Linked DNA regions of Homo sapiens. The protein of the gene in region 5 interacts with the protein of the main gene of each other region in a biochemical or structural test. Each region holds a gene or a part of one and is shown on either strand. Other genes may lie near its edges.

Evidence for each region.
Region 1: the proteins of FRMPD2 (region 5) and CLDN10 interact in a test that uses a peptide from one of them, tested with the Homo sapiens proteins (one large-scale study listed by IntAct).
Region 2: the proteins of FRMPD2 (region 5) and JUP interact in a test that uses a peptide from one of them, tested with the Homo sapiens proteins (one large-scale study listed by IntAct).
Region 3: the proteins of FRMPD2 (region 5) and ABCC6 interact in a test that uses a peptide from one of them, tested with the Homo sapiens proteins (one large-scale study listed by IntAct).
Region 4: the proteins of FRMPD2 (region 5) and MAS1 interact in a test that uses a peptide from one of them, tested with the Homo sapiens proteins (one large-scale study listed by IntAct).
Region 6: the proteins of FRMPD2 (region 5) and KCNJ12 interact in a test that uses a peptide from one of them, tested with the Homo sapiens proteins (one large-scale study listed by IntAct).
Region 7: the proteins of FRMPD2 (region 5) and ARHGAP6 interact in a test that uses a peptide from one of them, tested with the Homo sapiens proteins (one large-scale study listed by IntAct).

Annotation. Positions count from the first base shown.
Region 1 is NC_000013.11:95,558,814-95,563,046, reverse strand, and holds part of CLDN10 (claudin-10), read right to left. Parts: intron 2,916-4,233; coding exon 2,754-2,915; intron 2,666-2,753; coding exon 2,584-2,665; intron 1-2,583. UniProt on the Homo sapiens protein: Forms paracellular channels: polymerizes in tight junction strands with cation- and anion-selective channels through the strands, conveying epithelial permeability in a process known as paracellular tight junction permeability.
Region 2 is NC_000017.11:41,758,488-41,762,720, forward strand, and holds part of JUP (junction plakoglobin), read right to left. Parts: intron 384-4,233; coding exon 228-383; intron 32-227; coding exon 1-31. UniProt on the Homo sapiens protein: Common junctional plaque protein. The membrane-associated plaques are architectural elements in an important strategic position to influence the arrangement and function of both the cytoskeleton and the cells within the tissue.
Region 3 is NC_000016.10:16,213,321-16,217,553, reverse strand, and holds part of ABCC6 (ATP-binding cassette sub-family C member 6), read left to right. Parts: intron 1-3,104; coding exon 3,105-3,230; intron 3,231-4,233.
Region 4 is NC_000006.12:159,889,089-159,893,954, reverse strand, and holds the start of MAS1 (proto-oncogene Mas), read right to left. Parts: upstream 2,968-4,866; 5' UTR 2,822-2,967; exon of another isoform or gene 2,772-2,821; intron 1-2,771. UniProt on the Homo sapiens protein: Receptor for angiotensin 1-7. Acts specifically as a functional antagonist of AGTR1 (angiotensin-2 type 1 receptor), although it up-regulates AGTR1 receptor levels.
Region 5 is NC_000010.11:48,267,766-48,271,998, reverse strand, and holds part of FRMPD2 (FERM and PDZ domain-containing protein 2), read left to right. Parts: intron 1-4,233.
Region 6 is NC_000017.11:21,417,040-21,420,779, forward strand, and holds the end of KCNJ12 (ATP-sensitive inward rectifier potassium channel 12), read left to right. Parts: 3' UTR 1-2,831; downstream 2,832-3,740. UniProt on the Homo sapiens protein: Inward rectifying potassium channel that probably participates in controlling the resting membrane potential in electrically excitable cells. Probably participates in establishing action potential waveform and excitability of neuronal and muscle tissues.
Region 7 is NC_000023.11:11,176,256-11,180,488, forward strand, and holds part of ARHGAP6 (rho GTPase-activating protein 6), read right to left. Parts: intron 3,198-4,233; coding exon 3,047-3,197; intron 1,994-3,046; coding exon 1,845-1,993; intron 1-1,844.

The DNA.
Region 1 (4,233 bases), on a different chromosome or scaffold from region 5:
AATAGCCAATGTAGCACCAAGAGGTTGAAAAAGAGGAAAGCCTCTCATAGCACCTAATTACTGAACTGAGTTTAATCAAAATCTGAAAAGAGAATAAGAAATTCCAATGGCACTACACTGAATTAGGTGACTGAGCTATAGTAAGGACAGAAAACAGTCACGCAAAGATAGGTTTAAGTTATTGTTTGTACACAAATTAGCCTTGACCATTTGAGGAAAGAGTCCAATGATTTTTAAGATATAGACAAAGATATCCTTAATAATTGTCAGGAAAATAAAACCAGTAATATAGAAAAGATAATGCGGAAGAGTGAGAAATGTGTTTAATAAAATAAACCATGAGAAGTACAGGTTTGCTGCATATTTATGATATCAAACCCTAAAATAAAAATGTATCATTTAAATACAATATTTCTTTTAAATATCATTAAAATATTTCTAAGCTTCAGAAATACAGCCTTGGTTTTTATTTCAATGTTTCCTGCCATGTACATCTGTGCAAATCTCATTTGAAAGATAAGTAGGAGAAAATTAATAAATTAGGACATGTTTTTGTATTATAGGCAGGGGATAAAAAAGTTATATTGAGGTCTAAAACCCATTTAATAAAATTTGTTTTTCTTTCCCATTTAATAACATTTCTGAATAAAAACTATTTTTAAATGTATAGAAAAGGCTGGGCATGGTGGCTTATGCCTGTAATCCCAGTGCTTTGGGAGGCTGAGGGAGGAGGATCATTGAAGATCAGGAGCTGGAGACAACTCTGGGCAACATAGCAAGACCTGTCTCCGTTAAAAAATGTAAAAATTATCCGGGGCCGGGCGCAGTGGCTCACACCTGTAATCCCAGCACTTCGGGAGGCTGAGGCGGGTGGATCACCTGAGGTCAGGAGTTCGAGACCAGCCTGGCCAAAATGGTGAAGCCCTGTCCCTACTAAAAATACAAAAAAATTAGCTGGGCATGGTGGTGCGTGCCTGTAATCCCAGCTACTAAGGAGGCTGAGGCAAGAGAATCACTTGACCCTGGGAGATGGAGGTTGCAGTGAGTCGAGATCGCACCACTGCACTCCAGCTTGGGCAACAAGAGCGAAAACTCCATCTCAAAAAAAAAAAAAAAATTATCTGGTTGTGGTGGCACATATATGTCCCAGCTACTCGGGGGGCTGAGGTGGGAGGATCACTTGAGTGCAGAAGCGCAAGGCTGCAGTCAACTAAGATCACACCACCACACTCCAGCCTGAGTGACAGAAAGAGGCCCTAACTCTTAAAAAAAAAAAAAAAAAGGACGAAAGAAACCTCTTGATGAACAGTACATGTAGCATATTGTCACAAAAATTACAAAATAGTGGAATATTAGAAATCATGCTTTTTAAGAGCCAGTGTTCTGAAGTTCAACTGCCTGGTTTGAATCCCAGTTCAATCAGCCTACTAGTTTGGTCCAAGTTCCCTTGAACACATCACTTGGCCTCTTTCCTCAATTTAAAAAAAGAGTACCAAGAGGACCTACTTTATAAGGTTGTTTGTAAGAATAAAATAAAATAACACAATAAAATAATATTTGCAGTGCTCTGCTTGGCTCCTGGTGGGGACTCAACATGCGCTAGCTATTATTTTCATTTTATTTCATGATATAAGCATTTACTGTTTATGCGTAAGGTACACTTAAGCCAGAACTAGAAAATCAATTTCCTGAAGATTCCTAAAACCACCAGAAAAAAAGTAAAGCCCAGCTGACCAGCTATTTCAGTAATATACTTCTTAAAAATTCTATAAAATTTGACCTGAAGTCTAAAATAAAATTACCAGCCTCATTGATAGCAATACACACACACGTACGTGAGGCTTCCTAAAGAGGGATGTAGATACATTCTTAGGTAAGACAAAATATTTAATATATTAATTCTGATTTGGTATCCCTGGGGTTTTCCCAATCCAAAGAAATAAGCCTAGGGAAACTATAAAAAGCAACAGCCCATAGTTTAAAAACAACACCAACAAGCAAACTGATCTGTTAATTCCAAAGCATTCATCTGCAAGACTGACCAGCCACATTTGGGTAAAGGTGCCGTGCTCCTACAGCATTTTTCAAAAACCTTGCATCGTATACAGTTTCTTTATAAAGGTTTATTAGGAGGAGCTTGTTAAGACAGTAGTTAATACAGCAAATTTAAAAGACCCAGAAACTAGCATCTGGCAAATATCATTTTGAGTGGGCAACAATCAAGGCAAGGTTTTAATTTTCTATTCGCACACCGCATCATTCTTTCCTCTCCGTCTGACACCTTTCACGTTTCCTCTACTTGACCTCAGTTTCATGATGTACAGCAAACGATGAAGTTTATAGTTCTAAATTTGATGCCTTGAACTGTTTCGAGACAAGACACTGCAACACTAGCAAACTAATTAAATGCATATTTTGCGTATGTGGCATATGACACATTTAATCTTGAATGATGTCATCAGTTACCATTTATCAGTATGTCTTACTTTCAAAAGTCATATAGGAAATTCATGTCTCTTGGTTGAGAATATTAATTTATATACACTTCCTGTGAGCTGGAAACAGACTGAGAAGAGTACTTACTTTTGCTCAACAAAGAGAGGATCAAAGAATTCCGTTGTGATTTTGTTTGCATATAGGGAACATCCAGTCATTGAGCACAGCCCTAACAAATATTAGAGGGAAAGCACTATGGTTAGTGTGATTTCATTAACATCATCAAGTACCTTGTTTGGAAGAAAGTTACTATTTACCTGACAGTATGAATACAATCCCAGCCAAACAAGCAATTTTAGCTTTGGCTTTATCGGAGCCTCCGACTTTGGTACACTTCATTCCAAAGAGCGCAAATATGGAACCAAAGAAGCCCAGGCTGACAGCAGCGATCATAAGTCCTCTACATGCCTGTATATAACCTGCAATTAGAGTAGGTCATTTACGTTACATAAAGCATGTGGCTGTCCAGGGAGAAATCCTCATTTTACGTTGTCATTCTGGATGTTTGTTTTCCAAAAAGATAACTGTGATGGTGAAAACATGTGGCAAGACAAGCAAGAAAGGAAAGCAAGTTAATCTACAGGGAGTGCCTATTCTAGGTCACACACTGTGAAGTGCGGTTTATGGGGAATCCTCAGGATAGATCTGAGTGTTATTTCCATATTCACCAGTGAGGAAACTGAGGCACACAAAGGTTATGTGACTTACCAGAGGTGAGTTAGAAAGTGGCAGACATGGATTCCATCCCAAATCAGACTACGAATTCCATATAGTGAAATTCCACAGTGAAAGGTGCCTTTCACTGTGAAAAAACATCATCTGCCACCATCACAACTCTGTAGCTCCTCCGCTCATTGGACTTTAAAAGGGTGTTTTAATGGTTTTGACATTATCAAATGATAAGATTTATAACTGGGTGGCAGAAAGAGATCCAAAGGGTCAAACCTTCCAATATTAGTGGACGCTTATTAATAGCAGACTAACTGGAATATCATCATGAACCATGGGGGGTCTAAGGGAATACTTTAGTGAAGTACTATTGTTTTCAGGGTGTATATAATAAAACTGGGTTTTAAAAAGCACTATTTTGTAGAAGAGTAATTTATAGTGATTAAGTCAACTGTTCTTTTATAAATGAATGCCTTTAAAGTACCCTAACGAGTATGTTCTGTCAGTTCGTTTGTTCATCCTTCCTGTGCTATTCATGTTCTTAGTCATGTATTTTTATTTGCACAGCCAGGGTACACGGTAAACTTCAGTGTGGCTTTTGTCCAGGTTTTTACATTAACAGGGTTTAAACTAATAAGCTTTTACCACATAAGCCATTTTCATTTCAGCCTGAAACAATGCCATATTTCGATCTAAAATAGTGATAGTAGCACATACCGGGTGTAAGTAAGTATCTGCTAAGCAAATAAACATATATACCTACATCAGGTTTACGTTTGGAATTAAACTTTTTAACTGGAAAAAACCTCTTATGTGTCAATATATGATAAGTCATTTATTATTGGTGTTCAAGCAGAGCCATGATAAATAATAATTCCGAGACCATGATAATCATGAATTTAGGGAGTACATACTAGTGGCCTCCAGTTCAGTTTCTTTTTTTCTTTTCTTTTTTTAACACAGGATCTCACTTTTGCCACCCAGGCTGGAGGGAAGTGGCATAATCATAGCTCACTGCAGCCTCAAATTCCTGGGTTCAAGAGATCCTCCTGCCTTAGCCTTCTGAGT
Region 2 (4,233 bases), on a different chromosome or scaffold from region 5:
CCTCCACAATCTCCTCCATCCTCACACCATCCTGTGTGAGAGGAGGCAGGGGGCATGGGACAGGTGCCTTGGACATGGCCACAACTCCTCCCCATGACAGCCGAATGAACTTCACAGGTTCTTGGAATTGGCATCAGTTGCAACTGACCTCCCCATTCACACACACACCCACAGAGGACACCCTGACCCCCCAGGAAGGCTGTCAGAGGCACCACCAGCTCACATACCGTGTAGGGCTGCTGTGTGCCTGCAGCTACGTGGCGCTGGGCATCCTGGTGGGCCTTCACCAGCAGTTGGACGAGGCGGGGGATGACCGCTGCCTCCTGCAGCGGGGCATGGTTGGCTGGGCACAGGGCCAGATTCCTGATCAAGCCGATGGTTGCCTGGCAAAAAAAGGGGCAGTGATCAGGGGCACTTCTTGGACATCTGAAGGATCCCAGCTTCCCAGCTTCAAGTATCCCTTCCCTCCTTCACCTCTTCTGTCCCCGAGGCCAGACACAGACATACTGGAAAATATCCAGAGAAGGAGACCATCCCAGCCATGTCACTTAATCCACAGGATCTGGGAGTGCTCATGGCTAATTCTTTTTTTTTTTTTTTTTTGAGACAGAGTTTCGCTCTTGTCACCCAGGCTGGAGTGCAGTGGTGCAATCTCACCTCACTGCAACCTCCACCTCCTGGGTTCAAGCGATTCTCCTGCCTCAGCCTCCTGAGTAGCTGCGATTACAGGTGCCTGCCACCATGCCCAGCTAATTTTTTGTATTTTTAGTAGAGACGGGGTTTCGCCATGTTGGGCAGGCTGGCCTCGAACCCCTGACCTCAGGTGATCCGCCTGCTTCTGCCTTCTAAAGTGCTGGGATTACAGGTGTGGGCTACCACGTCCGGCTGCTCATGGCTAATTCTAATAGCCCTTGCTAAAATGACACCCCATTCCAGAACATCCTGCCAGCCCCATGCCTGGCCCCTCACCCTGTCCCCTCTTTCTTAACCACCCCCCACAGACACCATGACCTTGCTTGCTTTTCTGATAGTCCTCCAAGCCTGATTCTCAGGAATTCTGTGCTCTAGGTGCCCCCGAAGCCTCCTGCTTGGGTGGTGCTCACATTGTCATTAATCCCCAGCAGGGCAGCTCTGGAAAGAGGTGTCCTGAGATCTCCTCCCCAGGGTCTTTGACTCAGAGGAGCCACTCTGGCCTCCCAGAGCCTCTCAAGGTGTCATCTATTTCATCCTCAAAACAAGACGCCAGGAGGACAGGGATGAAAATCATGTGAGATGGGGACGTGAGCACAGGGCAAATGACTTGCCAAAGTCACTTGCCACTTAGCTGCTGGGTTAGGATGCAAAGTCCCACCTCAGGTTTGCAGCAGGGACCAAGCATCAAGGAGGGGTCACAATGACATTTTTTTTTCTAAACATGAATTTTCTTTTTTTAATTCAATGTATAGGCCGGGCGCAGTGGCTCACGCCTGTAATCCTAGCACTTTGGGAGGCCAAGGCAGGCAGATCACTTTAGGTCAGGAGTTCGAGACCAGCCTGGCCAACATGGTGAAACCACGTCTCTACTAAAAATACAGAAATTAGCCGGGAATTGCTTGAACCTGGGAGGCGGAGGTTGCAGTGAGCTGAGATCATGCCACTGCACTCCAGCCTGGGCAACAGAGCAAGAATCTGTCTCAAAAATAATAATAATAATAAAAAATAATAATTCAATGTGTAGAATCACTTAGAGTCATTCTTATCTGCACTGGGTTTTTTTTGTTTGTTTGTTTTTTTGTTTGTTTTTTTTGAGACGGAGTCTCGCTCTGTCGCCCAGGCTGGAGTGCAGTGGCGCGATCTCAGCTCACTGCAAGCTCCGCCTCCCGGGTTCACACCATTCTCCTGCCTCAGCCTCCTGAGTAGCTGGGACCACAGGCGCCCGCCACCACGCCTGGCTAATTTCTTTGTATTTTTTTAGTAGAGATGGGGTTTCACCGTGTTAGCCAGGATGGTCTCGATCTCCTGACCTCGTGATCCACACGCCTCGGCCTCCCAAAGTGCTAGGATTACAGGCGTGAGCCACCACGCCTGGCCATGTTTTTTGTTTTTGTTTTCCAAGACGGAGTCTCTCTCTGTCACCCAGGCTGGAGTGCAATGAGCGATCTCAGCTCACTGCAACCTCTGCCTTCCGGGTTCAAGTAATTCTTCTGCCTCAGCCTTCCGAGTAGCTGAGATTACAGGCACATGCCACCATGGCCAGCTAATTTTTGTATTTTTTGTGGAGGCGGGGACTTACTATGTTGGCCAGGCTGGTCTCGAACTCCTAACTTCAGGTAATCCTCCCGCCCCGTCCTCCCAAAGTGCTGGGATTACAGGCGTGAGCCACTGCGCCTGGCCTGTCTGTACTATTAAATTGTCTTAAATGTAGCTGGCGGATGCCCCTGCCAGCTGGCTCCTGTGCCCGTTGACAAGACCCTCATCGATGGTAGCTTCCTCACTCTCTGGCACCAGATGCCACCTTGCCTTTGGCTGCCTTCCTTGTCTCTACATATAGATATACACACACACAAACGCTTTCCCCCATAACTCTGTCCCTTGGGTCTGCCCACACCCTGACCCACTCTCACTTCCCCCACCTGACAGGGAAGTGACACACAGCTAGCTCTCTTCCACCCAGGTAGCCTCAAGAAGAAGACCCCACTCCTTCACACACCCAACTCCCTATGGGAGATGCTAAGCGTCCCCAGAATCCTCTGTGCCCTGTGTCTCTGTAGTGGCTCTCCTGATTTTCAGCAGGACACACGGCCATCTGGCTGGTGATCACACTTCCTAACCTCCTTGCACCTTGATGTGGCTGAATGACCAAGTTCTGGGGTGTGAGCAGGAGTGATGTGTGCCACTTTCTGGTGGCCGCTAGCCATCCCCAGTTCTCAGGGCTAGAACACATCCGTGGGGATGATACAGTCCACTCATTCGTGTGAGGACAACCCTCTCGTCTACACCCAGTGGCATAAGAAATGTGCTCCATGGAGCAGCACCTGCGAGCTTGTTAAAAATACAGAATTGGGCCAGGTGCAGTGGCTCACACCTGTAATCCTAGCACTTTGGAAGGCCAAAGTGGGTGGATCACCAGAAGTCAGGAGTTCAAGACCAGCCTAACCAACATAGAGAAATCCCGTCTCTACTAAAAAATGCAGGAGAATCGCTTGAACCCGGGAGGCGGAGGTTGCAGTAAGCCGAGATCGCACCATTGCACTCCAGCCTGGGCAATAAGAGCAAAACTCCGTCTCAAAAAAAAAAAAAAAAAGAAGAAATACAGAATTGTCCGGGCCTGGTGTCTCACACCTGTAATCCCCGTACTTTGGGAGGCTGAGGCTGGTGGATCACTTGAGTTCAGGAGTTCAAGATCAGTCTGAGCAACATGGCAAAATCCCATCTCTACTAAAAATACAAAAATTATCCAGACATGGTGGCGTGCACCTGTAATCCCAACTACTCAGGAGGCCAAGGCAGGAGAATCACTTGAACCCGGGAAGCAGAGGTTGCAGTGAGCCAAGAATGTACCACTGCACTCCAGCCTGGGCAATAGACATTGTCTCAAAACAACAAAAAAAAGACATACAGAATGGCAAGCCCTCTGCAGCAGGCCTGCAGAGAGACAGAGAGAGAGAGAGAGAGAGAGAGAGAGAGAGAGAGAGAGAGAGAGAGAGAGAGTGTGTGTGTGTGTGTGTGTGTGTGTGTGTTTTAGATTGTTTATTTGTTTGGGCTTTTTTTTTTTTCCAAATTTTTTGTAAGAGATGGGTGTCTCACTATGTTACCCACGATGGTCTCAAACTCCTGGCCTCAAGTGATCCTTCCGCTTCCGCCTCTGCCTGCACCTCCCAAAGTGCTGGAACTACAGATGTGAGCCACTGCACCCAGCCTCCTGTTTTTCTTTTCTTTTAAGACACGGGTTCTTGCTCTGTCACCCAGGCTGGAGTGCACTGATGCAATCATAGCTCACTGTAACCTCCAACTCCTGTGCTCAAGCGATCCTCCGACCTGAGCCTCCCCTCCCCAGTAGCTGGGACCACAGGCGTGCACCACCACACCTGGCTAATTTCTGTTGTTGTTATTGTTGTCGAGACAGGTCTTGCTATGTTGTCCAGGCTGGTCTCAAATTCCTGGCCTCAAGCAATCCTCCTACCTTTGCCTCCCAAAGTGTTGGGATTACAGGCATGAGCCACCGTGCCTGGCCCTGGAACCTGCAATTTAATG
Region 3 (4,233 bases), on a different chromosome or scaffold from region 5:
AATAGAAATAGAAACAAAGTCTCATTATGTTCCCAAGGCTGGTCTCAAACTCCTGGGCTCAAGCGATCTTTCCACCTAAGCCTCCCAAAGTGCTGGGATTACAGGCTTGAGCCAATGTGCCCCAGCCAATGATGAATTCTAGCCGTCCCATTTTAAAGATGAGGGAGACTAAGGCTAGGAGAAGGGAATGACGGCCTCAGGGCCACAAAGCTTGGGAGTGCAGAGCCCGAGTTCATCTCAGGCAAATTCAGAACAAACTTTCTGAGAGAAACAGTGGGGAAAACAGTGGGAGTTTAGGGAAGATGGGCCATATTGTCATTGGAATATCCAATTGTCTGCTATCTGCCAAAAAACAAACAAACAAACAAAAACCCAAAACTAGAAGAGTATAAAATCCAGTAGAGGAATCATGATTTAAAACTAGGGCTCTGGTTTAAAGCCATAAAACCTCAGTTCACACTAGCTTAATGAAAAGGGTAAGTCAAGGGGGTTCATTAGCTCATGCATTTATTAGCTCATACCCATGGGATCTCCCAGGCATGACTGATCCAGGCCTGGGACCAGGTACCATCACCAGATCTCCACTTCTGCCTCTTGGCTCTGCCATGTTAGCTTGATTCTCCAATGGAGTGGCAAGAAGAGCCACCAATACCTTCACACTTACATTCTAGCATGTAGCAAAGCCAGCAGAATCTCCCGATGGTTCCAGCTCTCAAGTACCCAGCATGGGGTGCTATGTGCATTCCTAACCCTGCCATGGTAGCCAAAAGACCAGAACGTATTCGTTGGCCAGGCCTCATTCACCCACCCAGCCTCGGAGTAGAGTCAGTTCTGCACAAATCACACGCCCGAACACAAGCAAAAAACTTAGGAAGAAAGAAAATCAGTACATGGAAGAGATCTCTGCACTCCCATGATTATTACAGCACTGTTCACAATAAACAAGATTTGGAAGCAACCTAAGTGTCCATCAACAGACGAACTGATAAAGAAAATGTGGTATATATACACAATGAAGTACTATGCAGCCATAAAAAAGAATGAGGTACTGTCATTTTCAACAACATGGATGTTAAGTGAAATAAGCCAGGCACAGAAAGACAAACTTTACATATTCTCACTTATTTGTGAAAGCTAAAAATTAAAACAATGTAACTCATGAACATATAGAGTAGATGGAAGGTTACTAGAGGCTAGGAAGGACAGTGGGTGGGGGAAATGGGGATGGTTAATGGGTACAAAAAAACAGAAAGAATAATATCTATTTGATAGCACAACAGGGTGACTATAGTCAATAATAATTTAATTGTACATTTTAAAATAACTAAAAGAGGCTGGACACAGTGGCTCACACCTGTAATTCCAGCACTTTGGGAGGCCAAGGCAGGAGGATCATCTGAGGTCAGGAGTTCAAGACCAGCATGGGCAACATGGTGAAACCCTGTCTCTACTAAAAATACAAAAAAAGTAGCCAGGCGTGCTGGCACACATCTGTAATCTCAGATACTCAGGAGGCTAAGGCAGGAGAATCACTTGAATCCAGGAGACGGAGGTTGCAGTGAGCCAAAATCAAGCCACTGCACTCCAGCCTGGGCAACAGAGTGAGACTCCAACTCAATAATAAACTAAAAAATAAAATAACTACAAGAGTAGAATGGATCATTTGTAACAGAAAGGATAAATGATTGCGGGGATGGAGACCTCATTTACCTTGATGTGATTATTATGCATTGCATGCCTGTATCAAAATATCTCACGTCATCCAGAAATATATATATCAGGCCGGGCGCGGTGGCTCATGCCTGTAATCCCAGCACTTTGGGAGGCCAAGGCAGGCGGATCACCTGAGGTCAGGAGTTCAAGACCAGCCTGGCCTACATGGTAAAACTCCATCTCTACTAAAAATACAAAAATTAGCCAGGGGTCGTGGCACATGCCTGTAATCCCAGCTACTCAGGAGGCTAAGGCAGGAGAATCGCTTGAACCCAGGAGGCGGAGGGTGCAGTGAGCCAAGATCATGCCACTGCACATCAGCCTGGGTGACAAAGCAAGACTCCGTCTCAAAAAAAAAAAAAGTATACACACACACACACACACACACACACACACACACACCTAAAATTAAAAAATAAAAAATGCTTTAAATTAAAAAAAGAAAGAAAATTAGGGTGTTTCTGACCAGATGACAGGGCAGCAGATGCAAAAATCATTGTGGTGTGGCAGCAGGAGCATCACAATTTGGACCAGATCATCTGCGTGTCCTTGAACAAGGTGCTGTCACTTCTCTGAGCCTTGGTTTCCCCCTGAGTCAAAGGAAGCAAGTAAACTCCAGCTGATGAGACTGTGTATGGCAAGAATGCCGCATGTGCTCAGGGCAGGGTCAGTGCTCAATAAAACCAGCTCTCATCTCTGCAAAACAGAGAACCCTGGCCAAGGGGGAGCAGGGTTGAAGATTGGGGTAGAGGGTGGAACGGAGAAAGGATTTCTTTTGTGGCACAAAGAAGAAGGTAAATTGTTTCTTCATCTCATTGTCCCAGCAGCTGTGGCCAATCATCATGTGGCTAAGGACAAAACCCAGACGCAGCCCTGGCCCACCATTTGTATAGACAGAATATTATAAATTGGGTATTTGAAAATTAGGACCTGCTGGGCATGGTGGCTCATGCCTGTAATCCCAACACTTTGGGAGGCCAAGGCAGGCAGATCACTTTAGGTCAGCAGTTTGAGGTCAGCCTGGCCAACATGGCAAAACCCCATCTCTACTAAAAATATTTTAAAAAAGTTAGCCAGGCATGGTGGTGGGCACCTGTAATCCCAACTACTAAGGAGGCAGAAGCAGGAGAATCACTTGAACCCAGGAGGCAGAGGTTGCAGGGAGCCGAGATCATGCCACTGCACTTCAGCCTGGGCGACCAAGTGAGACTTTGTCTTAAAAAAAAAAGAAAGAAAGAAAATTAGAACCACTAGGAAAGCCAGGGCTCTGGCTTTCAAATACTCTTGCCCTGGTCCCCAGAGTGGGCACTGACCCAAGATCAGAAACCTTTTCTCTCCTCTGAGCACCCTCCTCTGTCTCCATTCCTTATCTTCTGCTTTCCCTCCCACAGGGCTTCCAGAGCGACCCTGTCCGCCACCTGTCCACCTACCTATGCCTGTCTCTGGTGGTGGCACAGTTTGTGCTGTCCTGCCTGGCGGATCAACCCCCCTTCTTCCCTGAAGACCCCCAGCAGTCTGTAAGTCACCAAGTTCCAACCTCATTCCTGTTCCACTTTGAGGTCTCAGTCTCCCCCAGGTGACCAAAAGTCTTTAATTTTTTTATTCATTTAGCCATTCAGCAAAAAGTGTACCACATTTCTACTCGATGCCACAGTTGGCAGACTTTTTCTATATGGGCCAAGAGAAAATATTTTGGACTCTGTGAGCCATACAGTGATCTCAGTGGCAATTACTCAACTCTGCCATTGAACGCAAAAGCAGAATATGTCAACAAATTGCATGGCTGTGTTGCAATAACACTATTTGCAGAAACAGGCAGTGGGCCAGATTTGGTCATAGTTTGCCAAACCCCGCTATGCCCTAGCAAGGGCATAAGGATCTATGGTGAACAAGCAGATAGAGTTTCTGTTCTCACGTAGCTACTGGTCAAGCAGGGGAACCAGACACTGGTCACAAAATTAAACAAATATGTTGAAAATTGGATGGTCACAGTGGCTCATGCCTGTAATCCCAACACTTTGGGAGGCCAAGGCAGGTGGATCACTTGAGGTCGAGAGTTCAAAGCCAGCCTGGCCAACATGGTAAAGCCTCATCTCTTCTAAAATTACAAAAATTAGCCAGGCATGGTGGTGCACGCCTGTAATCCCAGCTACTCGGGAGGCTGAGGCAGGAGAATTGCTTGAATCCGGGATGTGGAGGTTGCAGGGAGCCAAGACTGTGCATTTGCACTCCAGCCTGGGCAACAAGAGCGGAACTCCACCAAAAAAAAAAAAAAAAAAAAAGAAGGAAAAAGAAAATTACCCTTGGGGTAAGTGCTCCATAGAAGAAGCTCATGAGAGATTGAGAGATTTACAATAGGTAACAGTGAAGCAGTCTGTGAAATCAAGAAACAATTCTTTTGTGGAAGAGACTGATCTGACATCATATAAACAGATGTTCAAATGGGGCCAGATGCAGTGGATCATGCCTGTAATCTCAACACTTTGGGAGACCGAGGAAGGAGGATTGTTTGTGCCCAGG
Region 4 (4,866 bases), on a different chromosome or scaffold from region 5:
CTAATAGCCTTCCAACACAAAAAACTGGACACTTTACCATAATCTTGTATGTCCCCTGCCCTAGTGCCTAGAATCAGCCATTTCTCCAAGGAGCCCTGGTTCCTTTCAGTAAATAATTATATTTAGAAGCCAAGATCTGGGTGTAAAATGTGCTCATTGCATGGAGGCTGTCGCTGCTCCCAGCCCCTCTCAGTGGCAGGGCTAAGGAATATATGTACATAGATAACATTTATGTATAGTCATACATACACACACCTATGGCTGTATTTCTATGTCTTTTTATATCTTTATAAAATATATACATATAATCATAAATTGACACCAATATCTCCAGTTTTGACCCACCACCAGTGAATTCATTTGAGTTTTCTCCCTCTCCATATTTGTAACTCCCTTCTCTGAGAAACCTGGCTCCCTTGGCCCTCTATGCATTTACTCATTTGATCAACCCACCTATGAATGGTTGCCTATGTCTGCCACTGCTCTTCCCCTGCCCCTGCACAGATGCCCTCCTCACTTTGTTGGGCCCTTTTACTTCCTGTTGGACCAGTGCTCCCCCTGCCCCCTACCCTGAGACACAGACCTCACACTGCAGGAGCTCCAACACCCAGCACCAGTTCCCTGTACCCCCCATGCAGATATCCTGCCCTGCCCAGCACTGACATCCCCTGCCATGTCACCACTGCCACTGCCCTCACCCCGGCGTGGCTGCCCCCATGGGGATGATCCTTGCCTATTCAGGCTCCAGCACCTCACACAAGACACCATAAGCCAGGGTGACCATGGTGGAAAGTAGGACTTAACACCCACCACCTTCCTGCAAAACTCAAAGAATTGTGGGCAGTATCGCATCTGAATGCAGAAGAGACTTTTGAGAAGAGGGGTTTTGACATTGATCAAAGTACAGTGCAGAGGCCACAGCCTATTCTGCTTGTGCCTACGGCTGCTTGGCCTGGGAGCTGCACTTTCAGTCAAACTGACCATGAGAGGCAAGTCCTCCATCAAGCAGATTAACCCCACTGGGTCTCAACTGCTTCACATGCTGGCATTTTAATGTAGTTTGAAAGGCTGGGGTATAAGAAATGCTAGAGATTGAACAGCACTTTGCCAATATGAGTCTCATGGAAATGCCAAACTGAGATAATGAATCAACAAGCAGGGAAAACAAGCATGGTGGTTTCCATTGATGTGTAAGGATGTGGGCTTTGCAGAGCCTGTGTCCTGCCAGGTCCACCTGAGATTGCTGGCTGCAATTACCTCTCAATGAAAGTGAGAGGAACAGATGGGTGGTGGAGCTGATAGAAAAAACAAGGAGACTCAGAGTCAGCAGAGAGTTCTAAATGCCATACATTTATGCTGCTCAAGTGTTCTCTAGAGACCTCAGAAGCAAACAACCCCTTCCACATTCCCATTCAGTTGAGCACAGTCCTTCCATGGCCCCAGATACCCAGCCTAGGACATCACTCTTAGAAGAAAGAAAGAGGGGGCTGGGGAGAAAGGCAGGGAGAAAAAAGGAAAGAGAGAAAAGCCAATAAAACTCAGGCTGGGGGAGTGGGCCATCTGAAAGCGCCTGTTGTTCCCAGGCAACTTAAAAGACAGCCTGACCCTAGGCTGGATTTCTAGGTGTGCAGATCCAGAGAAAAGGGCAAATTCTTCCCTGTGTGTGTGTGCAGTCACCTGGACAAACAGAAACCCATTTGTGAGATGGAATTTCCATGGCAGGCAAGGGCTCCGATGGGAATGTACAGGGCAGGACCATCTGTCCTGGTATTAAATGCATCATTCCCGTCTTCCCCACACTAGGGCCATCTGTACGCAGAAGCAGAGACTTCTTGCTCCCTTTCCAAACATACCACAGGATCAATTTAGAGCCCTGGTCTAAAAGGGGGGAAGGTGATTTTGTCCCCTAAGGGATGTTTGGCATGCCTGAAGATATTTTTGGTTGTCACAATGGAGAGGAGTGTGCTACTGGTATCTAGTTGGTAGAGGCCAGAGATGCTGCTAAACATCCTATAATATACAAGACAGCCCACACGGCAAAGAATTACCCAGCCCAAAATGCCAGTAGTGCCGAGGCCGTGGCACTCTGCTAGAGGCCAGCTTCTTACCACCTTTTTACTGCTGCACCCATAGCAATCTAACAACACACTATACATTCTCTCACCAAATTACTCCTAAGTATCCTGGCTGGGAAGTGTTGCTAAGACGCTCATACCAAAGATCAAGACTGGGCAGGAGATTCCTTTTAACAGACATCTTGTCACCAAAGGAATGCATACGGCTTCATAAGCAACAGAAGCTAATACTGATGCCAGTGCCCACTAAGGAAAAATGAAGAAAAATCAATACAGCTTGCCCCTGTGATGCCAAAGAGCTGATAGCCAAGTGATTTCTCCAGAGGAATCAAATTCAGTAACAACTCTTTCAAACCTCAACTTCTTTATCATTCATAAGCTTTCATTAAGCAGCCTTGAAAACCTCCAAGTCCACCATTCAAACTGTGAATTGATCCTAAGATTCTTTCCCCTGCAACGAGTTAAAAAAGAAAACGCTACTGCGAAGTTTCAACCCTGAAGTTGAAAAACAATGTCTGGGAACAGTTAACTCAGCAAAGAAGTAAATTTTCCAAAACAAAGGCAGGAGGAAAGAGAAGTTTTTGCCAACACACACCAACGGCAAACATCTAACACACCGAAAAAAATAAAAGAAAGAAAAACCAGCACAGAAAAGAGTTATCCAAGAAATAGCTTTTTAAAGAGAGAAAATCTTACTCTGGTTGTCAAGGACAGCTAAGCAATGAAAAACTGGGACGCAGACTCACTGGTGTCATTTGCTCAGGAAGGGTCAGACGTGGCCAACAGGTTGGCTGCCCCTTCACATCTGGGGCATCAATGCCCAGCCAGCCTGCAGGGTCTCCGGTCCCAACATCTCGAAGGATGGCTGCAGCCTCTCATCTCTGAAGGAATCAGAGCTGCTCTCCCACTGCTGAAAATATTTGAGATGTGCCAAGCAGATGGTCCCACGCTTATCAGCAGAAGCTTCCAATGGCATCATTCAGTGACACACTCAAGTGAAAATCTTCACGCCAATCCAGAGCGGGGTGTGAGCTGGTGATAATGCAAGGCAGTGGATCACCTTGAACCACTAAGGCCAGCCAGGGCTAAAGAGAAAGATGACGTGGAGAAATGCCACATGGAAGGGCAAAACCGCATGTGTAGTAGAAAGACAGAACCATCTCAAATTCCCAGCTCAGTTTCTAATAAGTTATGTGACCTCTGCCAAGCTCTCTAAGACTTGGTTTTCTCATCTGTAAAATGGAGCTAATAATATTAACTCAAAACCTAGTAATGATGAGATGAGTCTATGTATAGACCCAGAGAGACATACGGGAGACACATGGCTAGATAGTTAAGGATTTGTTCCCTTCTCCAACCCAGTTTCGGAGAGTATCATGCTCAGTGTAGTATATAAGACCCGTAGGATGCTATGAAAAGCAAGCAAGCCAAGGAGTGTGTTCAGGGGTGAAGGCAGGGGTCTGCACCATTGGCCATGCCCAGACTGCGTCCCAGCCTGGTCCGGGGGCTCCTCCTGGGAGTAGCTGTTTCTGTTAGATGCCAACTCTCACCCGTGCAGTCAGGAACATGAGAGCAAATTCCTTTTCCCCGATCCCTGTTCTGCATTTTTTGTGTTTTTGTTGTTGTTGTTGTTTGGTTAGGTTTTTTGTTTTTCTACCTTTTAAAAACCAAAAATGGCCAATATGTTACCCATTTTTCAAATAACTCAATGTGAAGCCCCAAAGGCTGAGAATTCTGGATCTCTTGGATCTCAGGTAGCCAAGTCTGAGATCCCAAGCCTGAAGACCCACCCCTCACTCAGGGTAGCATTTTCTCTTGTTTAAAGGGATTCCTTCATAGATATTGTGCCAAAGTATTAAGAACCTCGGGGACCAACTATATCAAAAGGGGTAAGAAGGCAGTTTCAGACTCTGTGGGAAAGCAGACATAGGAACCCACAGATGAAGTTCCCCTCCGACTGTTTTCGTAAGCAGGAAGACCATAGTCCCAGGGCAGAGCCAAACTACTCTTGTGGGAAGCCTGACCAGCAGCTCGGCCCTCCCAGTGGGAAGAAGAAAGGGGAGAGAAGAGAGCTTCCCCTGAAGCCAGCAGGCATCTACTGGGTAGGCAGTGCTGAGCAGCAAATCAACAGACCAGGTGAACTCGGTCTTGAAGTTGGAAAGGTGTTCTCATTACCTGGTTCTGATGCTCCAAGGAAGGAGAAGTTCAGCCTCCTGAAGAACTTTAGTTTCCCAGAGGATGGTCAGAAACTAAAAAGGAAACAGGCACCATCTAAAGCAGACTGCAAGGCAGAAAAGAAGGAGCACGGGTGGGAAAGGATCAGACCCACGGAAGAAAACATGATTAGGGAAAAATAAGAGGCTGCCCAGGAAGCTTCCAATCCCAGCAGGGGAGGAATTGATCCCGAAGGAAATGAGGGATGAAGGAGATGGGATACGACAGAGGGATCCTCTCTGCTCCACATTCGCTGCTTCTCAGATCAGGGGCTGCCCAGATGTTATGAACATTTCACCCTGTCCCCATGGGTGCTGTGAAACCCTGCGCAGAGTGACCAACTAGAAGGAGGACTCCAACGTCATTATGTAAGTCAACAGAACAGAGGTCCTCACCAATTTGCTTTTTCCAGTGCCTAACAGAAGTCTGTCCACACGGGCAGAGGACAACAAGCTGCCCAATTTGGAAATTGATAATGGTCCCAAGGTGAATGAAGAGCAAGCCGCCAGGAAGCCAGGGTGGCCCGATGGCTTCTAGGTAGGGAGAGAGTCTCCAAAGGGGTTGGTGGCCGGCCGGG
Region 5 (4,233 bases):
GCTTGTCTCTAGCCTATTCCCTGCCCTCTCCATATACTCAGGATTCATAATATGAATAGCTAGGATTTATTGAAAAACTGCCATATGCCAGACACAATAACTCATGGTATAAACGAGTAAAGAGAGGAAGTAACTTGCCCACGGTGAGGTGGGATCAATCCAGCTCTGACCTCGGAGCCTGCTCTTCCAGCCACTATGCTTTTCTATTCTCATTCCCCTCCTGAATTGTATTCACCCTGAGATATCAGTGTTTTTAGCTGCTTTCCTGGCAGAAGTCTGCTTTCGAGGCTGATTCCTATTCCTCAGGCTTCCTTTTACTGGTCGCTGGCAGCTCTACTGTTAACTGCCCTCCCTTTTTTTTTCTTGCCTTGGCTGTAAGCCTCCTTATTCCTGTATTTGCTTGAGCTATCATAGCCCAACATTGTTGGAAATAGAGTAGGTAGTGAAGGGAGGCAGGAAGGAGATGTGTAGGATGGTGCACAGGAACCAGTTCCAGGAGGGCTGGTGCCAGGCAGGAGGCAGATCAAGGCTGAGCTGTCAGAACTCACTCTTCAATAGATTCAAGATGGGTTAAACAGTGTCTGGCTGGAGAGTAAATGTATTAGACATTTTAAAAAAGTGCCATCTAGGAATTTCTTTTGTTTCTTCTATCAGTATCATTTTTGTATGATGCCAGTCCAGAGTGCAGGCAGCATCTGAAGTATTCACTTGTTAATTTACTGAGTCATTCAGCCAGTGGGGGAAGAAGGAGCTCCAGATGCGAGTGTCCCCACAGAGCCTGCAGAAGGACAGGAGGCAAGGGGGTTGTGGTGCGTCTAAGGCTGGAAAAAGGCCATGGGGGAAAGAGGAAGCTGCTAGAGATCAGTCCAAAGCGGTGGGCCTGAGGTCCTGCAAATCTTGCTCAGGATCTGAGCTGATCCTTTGGAGAATAGAAAGTGGCTGAAAGTTTTCACGAGGTGTGACATGGTCAGATTTGTGTTTTAGGAAGAGGACTCTGCAAGACAGAGAATGGATCAGGGCAGGGGCAAGGTATGGTTGTAGGAAACCATTTTGTAGAATTTACATTTCAGTGGTCATTCAGGGGAGGGTGCTGGTGGCTTAGACCAGGTCAGTGGTGGTGGGGTTGGAGAGAAACAGGCGGATTTTAGAGAGATTTTGGAGATGGTGATTAACGGGCTGGGAAGTTGAGGGATGGGAAGGAGACAAAAATGTCGTCTGAATGTTTGGCTTGAGGGGTTAGGTGGTGGGAATGCCATTTGCTGTATTCAAATAAGAGAGGTTGAAAGAGGAGGAGGTGGGGGGAAGGTGAATTCAGCTCTCTACATCTAAGGGGGTTGTCTAAAGGACATCCTGGGATCACCAAGCAGGAGCTCAAGAAACGGGTCTGAGCTTAAGACATGGCTGTGGAGGGGATGGACTGATGGTTGGTAACTTTGGAGCATGTAGAGTGATTTGAAGAGGGAGCCAGGGCAGAGAGAAACCCAAAGACCACTGACATTTGGCATTGCCTTTATTCATTGTTACAAATAATACCATGGCAAATATCTTTGAATATACATCTTTGTCAATTATGTTCTTGGCATCAATTCCCAGAAGAGGAAGACCCTGATGGCAGGAATGGACATCCCTTGGCTTTTGATACAGATTGCCAAACTGCTTTACAAATCAGCTGTCGCAAATTGGCCACACATAAGTAAGGTCTCTGAGAGGAACAGTGTCATTGCCACCTCATGGGCACTGAGCGCTCATCATCGAAGCCCACTTGAGGGATGAAAATGGGCCTCGAGACCACGTCCACTAGCAGCTCCTTGGATTATAGGCAGGAGTGGACAGTTTTTCCATATTGTTTAATAAGGAATCACCGTTTCTTTTATGACTTTTCTTAGTCTCACTTTCTCAATTACCTACTGCTGTTGGGCCCATAAGATTTTTCTCTCTGATTCTTTGCACAGAAATAGTCACTTTCGGTTTGACCTTCATCCCTTATCCCAGCTGGCTGTATAGCTCTTTGTAGATATCACTGTGGGAAGCAACTTCCTGACTCAGGGCCTGAGGAGGGGTATGTGGTAAATAAAGCCCAGGAGAAGAGCTTGAGACCAGAGTCCTCTCCCTGAAACCACTCGGAGTGGGATTCTGGACAAGCCTTCACCCTCACACCTTGGCTGTCTCCCATTTCCCATCTGTGCTACAGCAGGTCTCCTGGGTCTGTCAAGTGTGAGTTAAGGACCCCCTCTTCACTAACCAGTATTTTTAATGGTCTGCTCTGGATGGATTAATTTGACTGAATGAAGCTGCTTCACTTCTAGAGGAAAATTTTTAAACAAAGCATTCACCCAGTGGGGTTTGTGACAGGGCAAGCCACTTCTCAACCTGCATTAGGCTGGGAACCCACGGACGGCCTGGCCCTGCCTGAGTCCCATCAGCCAGAGGTTTATCCCTCAATCATCACTGCAGGAGGAGAGAAGGCTATGCTCTCCGTGAAGGGGGAACTCTCAGGCCTGTTCAGCTTCTGCATCCCTCTGAAGGCTGCATTTCAGTGACGCTGGCCACCCTTGTACTAGGTACCACCTGCCCCACCAGCAACATCCACATGCAACACGCCTCTGTGCATCCTATTTCCTATATGCTTAGAAATGTTCCCTAGGAGGCAGAGAATTGGCATTGCTGGGACTTGGCAAATACATGTTCTCAATTTTGATAGATGGCTCTGAAAAATCTATACCAATTTAATTCCCATGTTAATGGGTGTTATGAGAGGGCCTGGTCTGCAGCCCCCACCTTGCTAACATCAAATATTTAAATTTTTGACCCTCTTGATAAATTCTCATTGCTGTTTTGTTTTCCCTGATTTACTAGAAACACAGCAAATCTTTTCAAATATTTATTGAGTAGTTGTATTTTTTCACCTGTTTATTTCTTAACTTTTAAATTAAAGAGTTGTTTTTTTCTAATTGATGAGTAAATAGTAACCCTTTTGCCATTATATATATTTTCTCCTAATCTGTTGCATATTTTTGTTTACATTTAATTTTCATATATGGTCAGATAAAAAGTTGCAAAGAAGTTGCAAAGAGCACAGAGAAGTCCCTATACTCTTCCTCCAGTGTCCCCCAGTGATTATATCTTACCTAACTACAGCACAATGGCAAACCCAGACATTTGACATTGGTACAATATGTGTGTAAAGTACTATGCCATTGTAATACTTGTGTAGATTTATGTAACCACTACCACAATCAAGATACAAAACTATTCTATCGCCACAAAGATCTCCCCCAGCTCCCATTCTACTCCCTACCACCCTGCTTCTACTATCTCTGAGATCAGTCTCACAAGCTGTGACCTTTTGAGACTGGTTTTTCTCATTCAGCCTAATGCCCTTGAGATCTAATCAAGCTGTTGCACGTATCAATAGTTTGCTCTTTATTGCTGAGTAGTATTCCATGGTATGAATATACCACAATTTGTTTAACCATTCACCAAATGAAAGACATTTTGACTTAACAGTTTTTGGCTATCACAAATAAAGCTGCTATTACAAATAAAACACACACGTTCACATGCAGCTTTGTGTGTGGATATTCATTTTTTTTCCTCTGGGATAAGTGCACAGAAGCACAATTGCTCAGTTGTATAGTAAGAGTATGTTTAGTTTTTCTCTTTTTTAAAAAGAAACTGACAAACTCTTTTCTGAAGTGGCTGTACCACTTACATTCCCACCATCAACTTAGAAGAGATCCAGTTTCTCTGTATCCTCATAAGCATTTGGTATTGTCACTTTATTTTTTTTTCCTGTCATATAGGTGGGGAGGGATATCTCATTATAGACTTCATTTGCCTTCCCCTTATGGCCAGTGATGTTGAACATCTTGTCATGTGCTTATCTGCGATGTGTGTATCTTCAGTGAAATGTCTTTCCATGCCATTTGCTCATTTTTCTAATTGGATTGTTTGCTTTCTGCTGTTAAGTTTTGAAACTTCTTTGTAGACATCCTACATGTGAGTACTCCATATTAAGCATGGCACCTAAACCTACTTTCTGCCTCTATGGATTTGTTTATTCTGGATATTTCATATAAATGGAATTACACAATGTGTAGGCTTTTACATCTGGCTTCTTTCACTTTAGCATAACGTGTTCAAGGTTCATGCATGCTGTAGAATGTATCAGTACTTGATTTCTTTTTATGGTTGAGTAATGTTCCATTGTATGGATGGACCACATTGTGTTTA
Region 6 (3,740 bases), on a different chromosome or scaffold from region 5:
GTTTCAGCTTTCTTGACCTTAGCTTGGGTGAGACTGTTTACAAAAAAAAAAAATTACCATGCAATTGAAAAAATTTTTTTTTAATTCACAGGGGGCAAAAAGAACAATTAGAATTCCATGGGTCTGCCAGGATGCAGCAGCTGGCTGAAGGCTCCAGAGGGTTCCCCGAGGTGGGACTGGCCTCTCCCCGTGTGTGTGGGCACCACAGTCCCTGGGCAAGCAGGGTGCTCTGGGACCGCACTTCATCGAGCTCACGAGCCAGCTAGGCTCTGTTTGTGATAGAAAAATCAAGACCATGTTAATGATCGTAATAAAAGCTTTCTACTGTCGTTGGGGTGGTGGGTGGGGCTGGGAAGAAACTGGTTTGAGCTTTTAGAGTTTGCCTTTGTACCTTAGAGATGTGTCTCAGGGCCAGGCATGGGACCTGCCATCGAGGGTTCCTCCCCGCACCCTCGATTTTCCTGTTTTGCTTCTCTCTCCATTTCTGTCCAGGCCTCCGCCCAATTCCACAGTGAGGGGTGGTTAGGAGCTATAGGCCGGGATGGCTCCTTGGGAAGGGAAGTCGGGATCCCAGGCTAGGAGGAAGCTGGCAGCCCCGTCCCCACTGGGCCCACAGTGTGAGTCGTGCCTTAGAGACTCCGGGTTGTCCTGTTCTTTCTGGGCTTGCTCATCTCCCCCCAACCCTGTCCCACCCCACCCCTCCCATACCTCCACTGCTGAAGTTCCTCCAGCCCCTCTGTCTGCCTTGTGAAGGTGGCAGGGGCCAGGTCTGCCTGACATAGGACCACATCCTGTCCCTCCCTCACCTGGAGCAGCACAGCAGAGTTCAGGCAGGGCACAGCCAGGCCCTGGTCAGCGCTGAATGGCAGAGGAAAGATCTTAGGAAAGGAGAGGAATCGCCACCCCCTCCTGCCAACTGGGATGACTGGGGAGGGCCACGCTCATTCAAAGCTGAATCAGAAACCAGCCGTGGAACAGAATTCCTGCCGAGTCTTCCAGGGCCGCTCCTCCACCACCCTCCCCCAGGTTGAGGCACTATGGCACCCTCATCAGGAAGAGGTTTGGGGTCCCCTTGTTGTCACTGCTGGCTCTGCCACCCCATCTTGTTCATGGCAGCTGGTTGGGTCAGGTCCATGGTAGAGCCAGGCCCTTCCCAGGGCTGCGGAGAAAACCTGCTCTCTTCTAGTCGGGCTTCTCCAGAAGCCAGTAATCAGAAAGGATGTGTCTCCTGCTCCAACTCTGCCCCCGAGACAGCTCAGAGCCAGAAGGCACCCCGAGACAGCTCAGAGCCAGAAGGCACCCCGAGACAGCTCAGAGCCAGAAGGCACCGAGGACTCTGGCCCAAGTGGGGAAGCTGAGGCAGAGAGCAGAGGGGGTCATGCAGTGAGTGGGTGGGGTGCAGGAGACAGAGAGGGGCTGGGGGCGTGGGGTGGGGGTGTCTGCCTCTTCCCTCCACCTCCTCCCCTCCTTAGCAGCTGAAGACTCAGCCCTGAGGTCTGGGGCAATGGAAGTCAAGACACCCGACCCCTACATCCTGGGGTAGGCCCGACTCAGCATCCTGTCCCAGCTTCAGCCCCACACTCATTTCTGGCATAGAAGATTCCGCCGAGGCAGCTCTTTCCTCTCGGGGTCTGCCAGGGGTGCCTCAGCTGGTTCCTGCTCCCAGGCCTAGCCCCGAAGCCTTAGGGGCCTTCTCAGCCTTAGCCCTGGGTACTGGGGTGAAGTTGGCAGGGGAGAGCTTGACACTTCGCCTCCCTGATGGCCATGCTGAGGGACAGTGGTGACCCTGGTCACTTGGTGCTGGTGTAGGGGCCTGTGCCCTTCCAGGGCCAGTGAGACAGCCTTCTACTCCCCCGACCCAGAGCTGAGTCCGAGGACCCCAGGCCCACCTCCTGGCCCTCTTGGAGGTCTGTGCTCTTACCTCCCAGCCCCCACCCTGCGGGAGAGCAGCCCCAGCGCCTCATCTCCCCAAAGGCGGCAGATGCTTGATTCTCCTGCCCTCTTTCTTCCTTCCCTCGTATTTATTTATTTATTTATTGCTTGTGCTAAAGACCAAAATAGTCTCCCTCTTTAGTGCACTTGAAGCGGGAGGGCGGATGGGATGAGCCAGGAGCGAGGAAGACTTGGCCCCTGGGGAGTGTGTGTGTGGAGGCGTGTGCCTGTGTGAGCCTGCATGCATACATGTGTGGTGCACACATGCACACTCGGCTCTTCATGTGTATGACTGGGTTAGTAATACAGATACGTGATCTATACGTGTGTGTGTGTGTGTGTGTGTGTGTGTGTGTGTATGCAGGCGGTTATGTGTCTGTCTACCCCCAGGTGTTTCCGTGTACAAGTTTCCTGTGAGGGAGGGCACCCACCCATCAGGTTGGGCACTGGCACAGGTGAACCCCACAGTCCCCGACCCTCTGCCCTGATTATGCACGTCTGCTCCTGAGTGGAGCTTGTGTTCCAGGATGAGACATCTGGAGGTGAGCGTGTGCGTCCGGCTCGTGTGTAGGAGGCTGTGTGTGTGCCCATGTGAAACCGTGTACTTGAGTGTGTGTCTGTGTGCAGCCTATGCCTGCTGCTCAGAGCACGGTGGCCACCCCCTGAGCCTCTGCTGGTGCTGTGCTGCGTGGTCCCCACCCAGAGGGTCCTGGGGGGCGGGGAGGAGCCACCGTTGGGAGGCCCCTGTACGGGGTGTCTGCCCTGCGTGAGGGCATAGAATGTCAAATTATTTTAAATGGTGAAACTGGAGAGTTTTCATGTTATTTTCAATACATAGCAGTATCTAAAGACGTAGGCGATGAGACTAGACCACATTAAATGCATTTTGATCTCTTTGAGGTCCCCTGTGTTGAGATGTGTTTTCTGAAGTTCCCCTGCATGGCTCCACAGCGTGCTGGGCGTCCGCCCGGCTTCCTCAGCCTCCGCCTTGGGTGGGGGTTTCCTGGGGCTTCCTCATGGGTGAGGGTGGGGCATGGTGGCAGCTGTTGGGAGATGGAACAGAACTCAGCCTCCTTGCAGCTCCCAGTGGTCTCCAGCAAGCACACAGGGCTTGTCCCATGATGTCACCCATCCCAGGCGGCAGGGCCGAGCCTCCTGCCTTCCCTTCCTTCTGCAAGGATGTGCTGGGTGCCTGCTGTTGCAGCAGCGCCCTCCCCAGCTGGGGGAGGCTGACCTGAGACAGGCAACTCCTTTCCCAGGAGGGGAAGCCCTGCTCCAGCTTGTAGCAGGCAGGGGCTGAGGAGGAGTTTCAGAGCGTGCCAATGTCTCCACTGAGGTGACGAGACAAGCCTGGAGTGGGGTGAGGGAACACACACGGCCCAGTTTTGGGAAACTAGACTTTCATCTGTACCTTGAGGCTCAGCCCCAGATCTCCAAGGTCTTCAGCAGGGACTTGTGGGGAGAGAATTCCTTCCCTTCCCAAACTATGTGAGTGGAGAGTTCTCCACTCCTCTGCATCAGCAAAGGACTCAGGGCACCCTCTTTCTGCAGGATTTCGATGATGATTCCAGACAACCCCGGATAAGAATCCCCTGCCTGAGTCATTCCTGGGTGATGGTGCCGTGCATGGCAGAATGTGGAGCAGGGGCTTGGGTGCCAGGGCCTAGGGGGTCATGAAGGCTTCCCAGTGGGAGCTCCCTTGGGTTGGACTTGGGGTGACCCGGGGACCCTGGAGGTGGCTTGGTTTGGTGGGGACCTCCTTTCTGACTCTGGGGCCCTCCTGGGACCCCAGTAGCAGGATCAAGGCC
Region 7 (4,233 bases), on a different chromosome or scaffold from region 5:
TATATATATTTGCATATATTTATATATTTATATGTATTTGCATGCATATATATATATATATATATATATATATATATATATATATATATATATATCTCCCCTAGCACAAAGCCAGCTCATGGAAGGAGAGACATAAATGGTAGCTAATATTCCAGCATGCTGTTTCATTTACACCTGTCCAAGAATATTTTCTTCTTTTTGGCATAGGCAATGGAGACTTGTTCAGCAATTGAATGGAAAGAATGTCTGAAAATGATTCTAAAAGGGCAACAATGAGTTCGATTGGAACTTTTGCTTTCCTCAATGCCTTCCTAATTACCTGAGACCCAATTTTCTCCTTCTCACACAGTACTTAAGAAATGTCAGAGAAGTAACTGGAGTACCTTTAAACACAGAGCTCTGCTTTCCCCCAGCAATTAGGCAGATCATGCTACAGCTTCTGTTATAACTGTAGTTGATAGAGGTTGGCATCCAAATGAGTAATAAAACTACTTAACAATTATGAGAATTATAGTATGCCCATCAAAGAGCTGTGTATGCTGAAATAAGGTGTCAGTGCCACATTATGAAACCTGAAGCCATCTGGGGCTTCACTAATTATAACTGCTATAGAGATAAATGGCTAAGTCAGGAGAGTTCCATTCTCACACCCGTAAGGAGGAGGACGAGAAGAAATGCAGAATTGCCTTTCTGGATTAGAGTGAAAAAAATTATACATAACCACGTTCTTTGGGAAAGAAATTTGACAAACACAGAACTGAAGCTGCAGTGCAGCTGAGCTTTGTTTAACAAGAATTTACAAAAAAGTTTCTGTGGTTAAGTAAGTTTGGAATGCCTCTGGCCCCTTCTTATTGATTTACAGTGCATGTTAGCTTATTAAGGAGTCTAAAACCTCCTGAGGAATCCGAGGTCAGGGAGAGGTATAACTGCATGGTATCAAAGAGGGAAGGGGGTGTCTCTTGTTAAGGTGAAGATTAAATACGTTGCCCATAAGTAAGCAACTTAAAATTCAAGCCAGCATCTCATTTGTCCAAGGGTGAAACAAAAAAAAAAATCTTGAAATATATGAGTGTAACCAAAGAGAACCAGAACCCAAGATCTTAGATTTGGTGGGCGGGGGGGGGGCACACTGGGGCCTGAGTGGGGATCAGATCCAACAAGAACATTTCTAAAGAGTCTGTGGGACTATGTACAACCTGCTTTGAGCAGTTGATACCATGTGACATCAAGACACAATGGCAATGGTCAGCAGATCAGACCCAGTTTCCTCCACACCTGGTTTGGAAGCAGGACTGACCCTCCCTTGCATCGAGCAAGTCCCTGTTTTGGGGGGAGAGTTTAAGAAAGGAAAGGATCCCTTGAAAGGGAGACACTAGACTTCTTGCTCATAGTGCAGATGGGAGCTCCAGGGATAAACTGGAAGAATAAAGAGGTGACATCATATTTGGGCTCCAAGTTATAGAAGCAGGTAAAATCAATTATAAGGATAACAATCTCCTCCCACCCCCATCATTCCACTTTTACATGGTTGCAAGCACTTCTGTAGTTCACTGTTTTTCTTCTTTACAAACGGAAGTTCAGAGTCTTGAGTAAAGCCTCACCATGGAAAATGACAGCCTCATTTGGAAGCATACTTGAAACATATAAGGAGGCTCATGGCCCATGCACTTTTAGGAACTGTGCCTCCAGAGAAGGCCCTGCATTAGTCTCTTCCTACAGAGACAGCTAGGTTGGAGAAGGGGAGACATCATTACCTCCAGGCAAAATGGCCATTTTGGTGGTATGCCCTTTTAAAATAGGGGAGAGGAAGAGTCACGGCATCTATGGCAGCAAAGGCATCTTACCTCTTGCCCATCTTTGCTGATGTTGTCATCGGCATGCCTGGCCACGATGGAGAGGAACTGTAGCAGGCGGTGGAGGGTGTCGCAGTTGCAGGGAGGTAGAAGGTATATGAGGAGCTGCAAGGTGCCCAGCTGTTCCTCCGGCTCCAACACTAAGCAAGGCAAAAAGAGGTACTCAAATAAAAGGGGAGCCCATACTATTCAGGCACAGAGGAAAGGCCTCCTCTCAATTGTCTTAAGAAAGGGATTATCAAGGCAATTCCCATTTCATGCCTTCACTCATTTGCCCATTGCTTTAGCAATTTACCAGCAAGATTCTATGAAAGATATAAAGCCAAATTAGACCTCGAGAAGTGTAATACCTAGAAAAATAACTGTAATCCAGGTAAAAAAAAAAAAAAGGTAACTCAATTTCCCTTACTTTCTTCTCCCCCCTTCCCTGGCATTACTCATCACCTAGTTTAAGGATTTCAGTCTTCCATTTTTGGTAAATATTTATTAACAATGGCTGAAAATTGGTGAACATTCTGAAATTTGAGTTTATAATGGATTTAAGGCTCTTTTCTGTTGAGCAATTCACAAGGGACAGATATTTTGTTGGCAATAACCAAGATACAGCAAAGCCAATGTCTTCTCTCTCCGTTGTGATCCTATTTGAATGGCAGCATTGGAGGAAGAAATGTATGGAGGTTGACCCAGGTTTGGCCTATCTCTCCTCTACCTCCTCCTTTTTTTCTTCTTCATGGGATCTGTAGCTACAGCCCAGAAGCAGCTATGTTGAAAGCCCTGGCACTGGGCTATGGCATCTTGCTTCTCCTGGAATGTTGCTGCCCTCCTTTCTCACTCTGGGTTCTCGTGGTTCCCTCCTTCTTCGTACCAGAAACACAAACTCATTTTTAGGCACAGACTCAATGTGAACTCTTGTTGGTACTCTAAGCACTAACTCATAGTACTTTTTACTGTTCTTGGGTTATTTGAAAGCATCTCAAATTCTTCTTGGCTATTTCCATTTGTTTTATTGTAACTTTCTTCTTGCTAATTATTCCCAGGGTAAATCTGAGAAATTCCCTCAAATAGCTCACTCTTTAGAGATTGATAAATAAGGACAAAAAGTTATCAGGAAACATATGCATAAAGTTATGATGAATGAGTTGGACATCTTAGTATTCCAGGGCCACTTTCCCACATATGGCTGTATTACGCACAGAGAGTGTTGATGAAAGCTGTGTACAGCTCCCTGGTGAGAAGGGGGTCTGGCATGTCCCTCAGGAACTCTTTCAGCAAGGCTGCCACATCATGAACACTGTGCTCCTCCTCCAGAGAGACATCAATCCCACGGTCAAATTCCTCACGTAACTGGAAGAACAATGGTTCGAGTGGCAGTCACATAACACCATACCTCAATGAGCAGTGCCCAGCAGGAGAAGTGCTGTGACACGTAGCATCTGGAATTAAGACTGCACAGACCCCAAGAAGGGGAAGCAAACAACATCCTCACCTTGATCTGCCGAGTTGACACAGTCCAGCTATGAATATGTGTGTGTGTGTGTGTATACATATATATGTATATATATGAGTATACACATGTATATATGTATACATATATACAATATATGTATTGTATATATATGTATTGTATATGTATATACATATATATGTATATGTATACATATATATATATATATATAAGCATTATTAAATAAAACTATCTGTGGATTTATTGTTAATGATGTATGCAGAAGGGCTTGGTAATGACAACCAGGTTAGGAGGAACACCTAAGAGGTAGAAGACAATTTAGGTCAGCTATAAATGTGGGAGGGAGGAATTAATCTATTACACAGCATTTCTGTGTGTCACCAATCCTGCCATGTTTGGATGTTGATATTTTACTGAGTCACTCTATAAGAAAGCAAAGAGATTTTTTTTTTCTGCAAAAATGAAATTAAGAGCCCTGATAACACATTTATGACTAAGACTTAAAAGATGACAATAACTAAATAAAAGCTGTCTTAGATTTGTCAAAGTAGTCTTATTAACAATTACCAGAAGGATTCCCTGCCTTAATCATTATACTAGGTCTATTATCACTTGCAGCAGCAAGAAAACACAGTAGCAAGGGAGTAATAACTCCACACCCTACTTTTATCTCTAGCAGCTCAACTTTTCGTATGCATTGTTCTCTGCTGTAGAAATAATTATGTAACTTCATAAACCTACACTATGCAAAAAACTTCTCTAAGAGTTCATTTGTTTTCAATCTTTCATCCATCCATTCATTCAACAAAGATTACTACGCATTTCCTGTGTCAGACCCTGTTACAGGCTCACAAAATACACTAGTGAGTAAAGAGGCAAAGTCCCTCTAGAGAAACAATGTGATAAGCAGGTAAT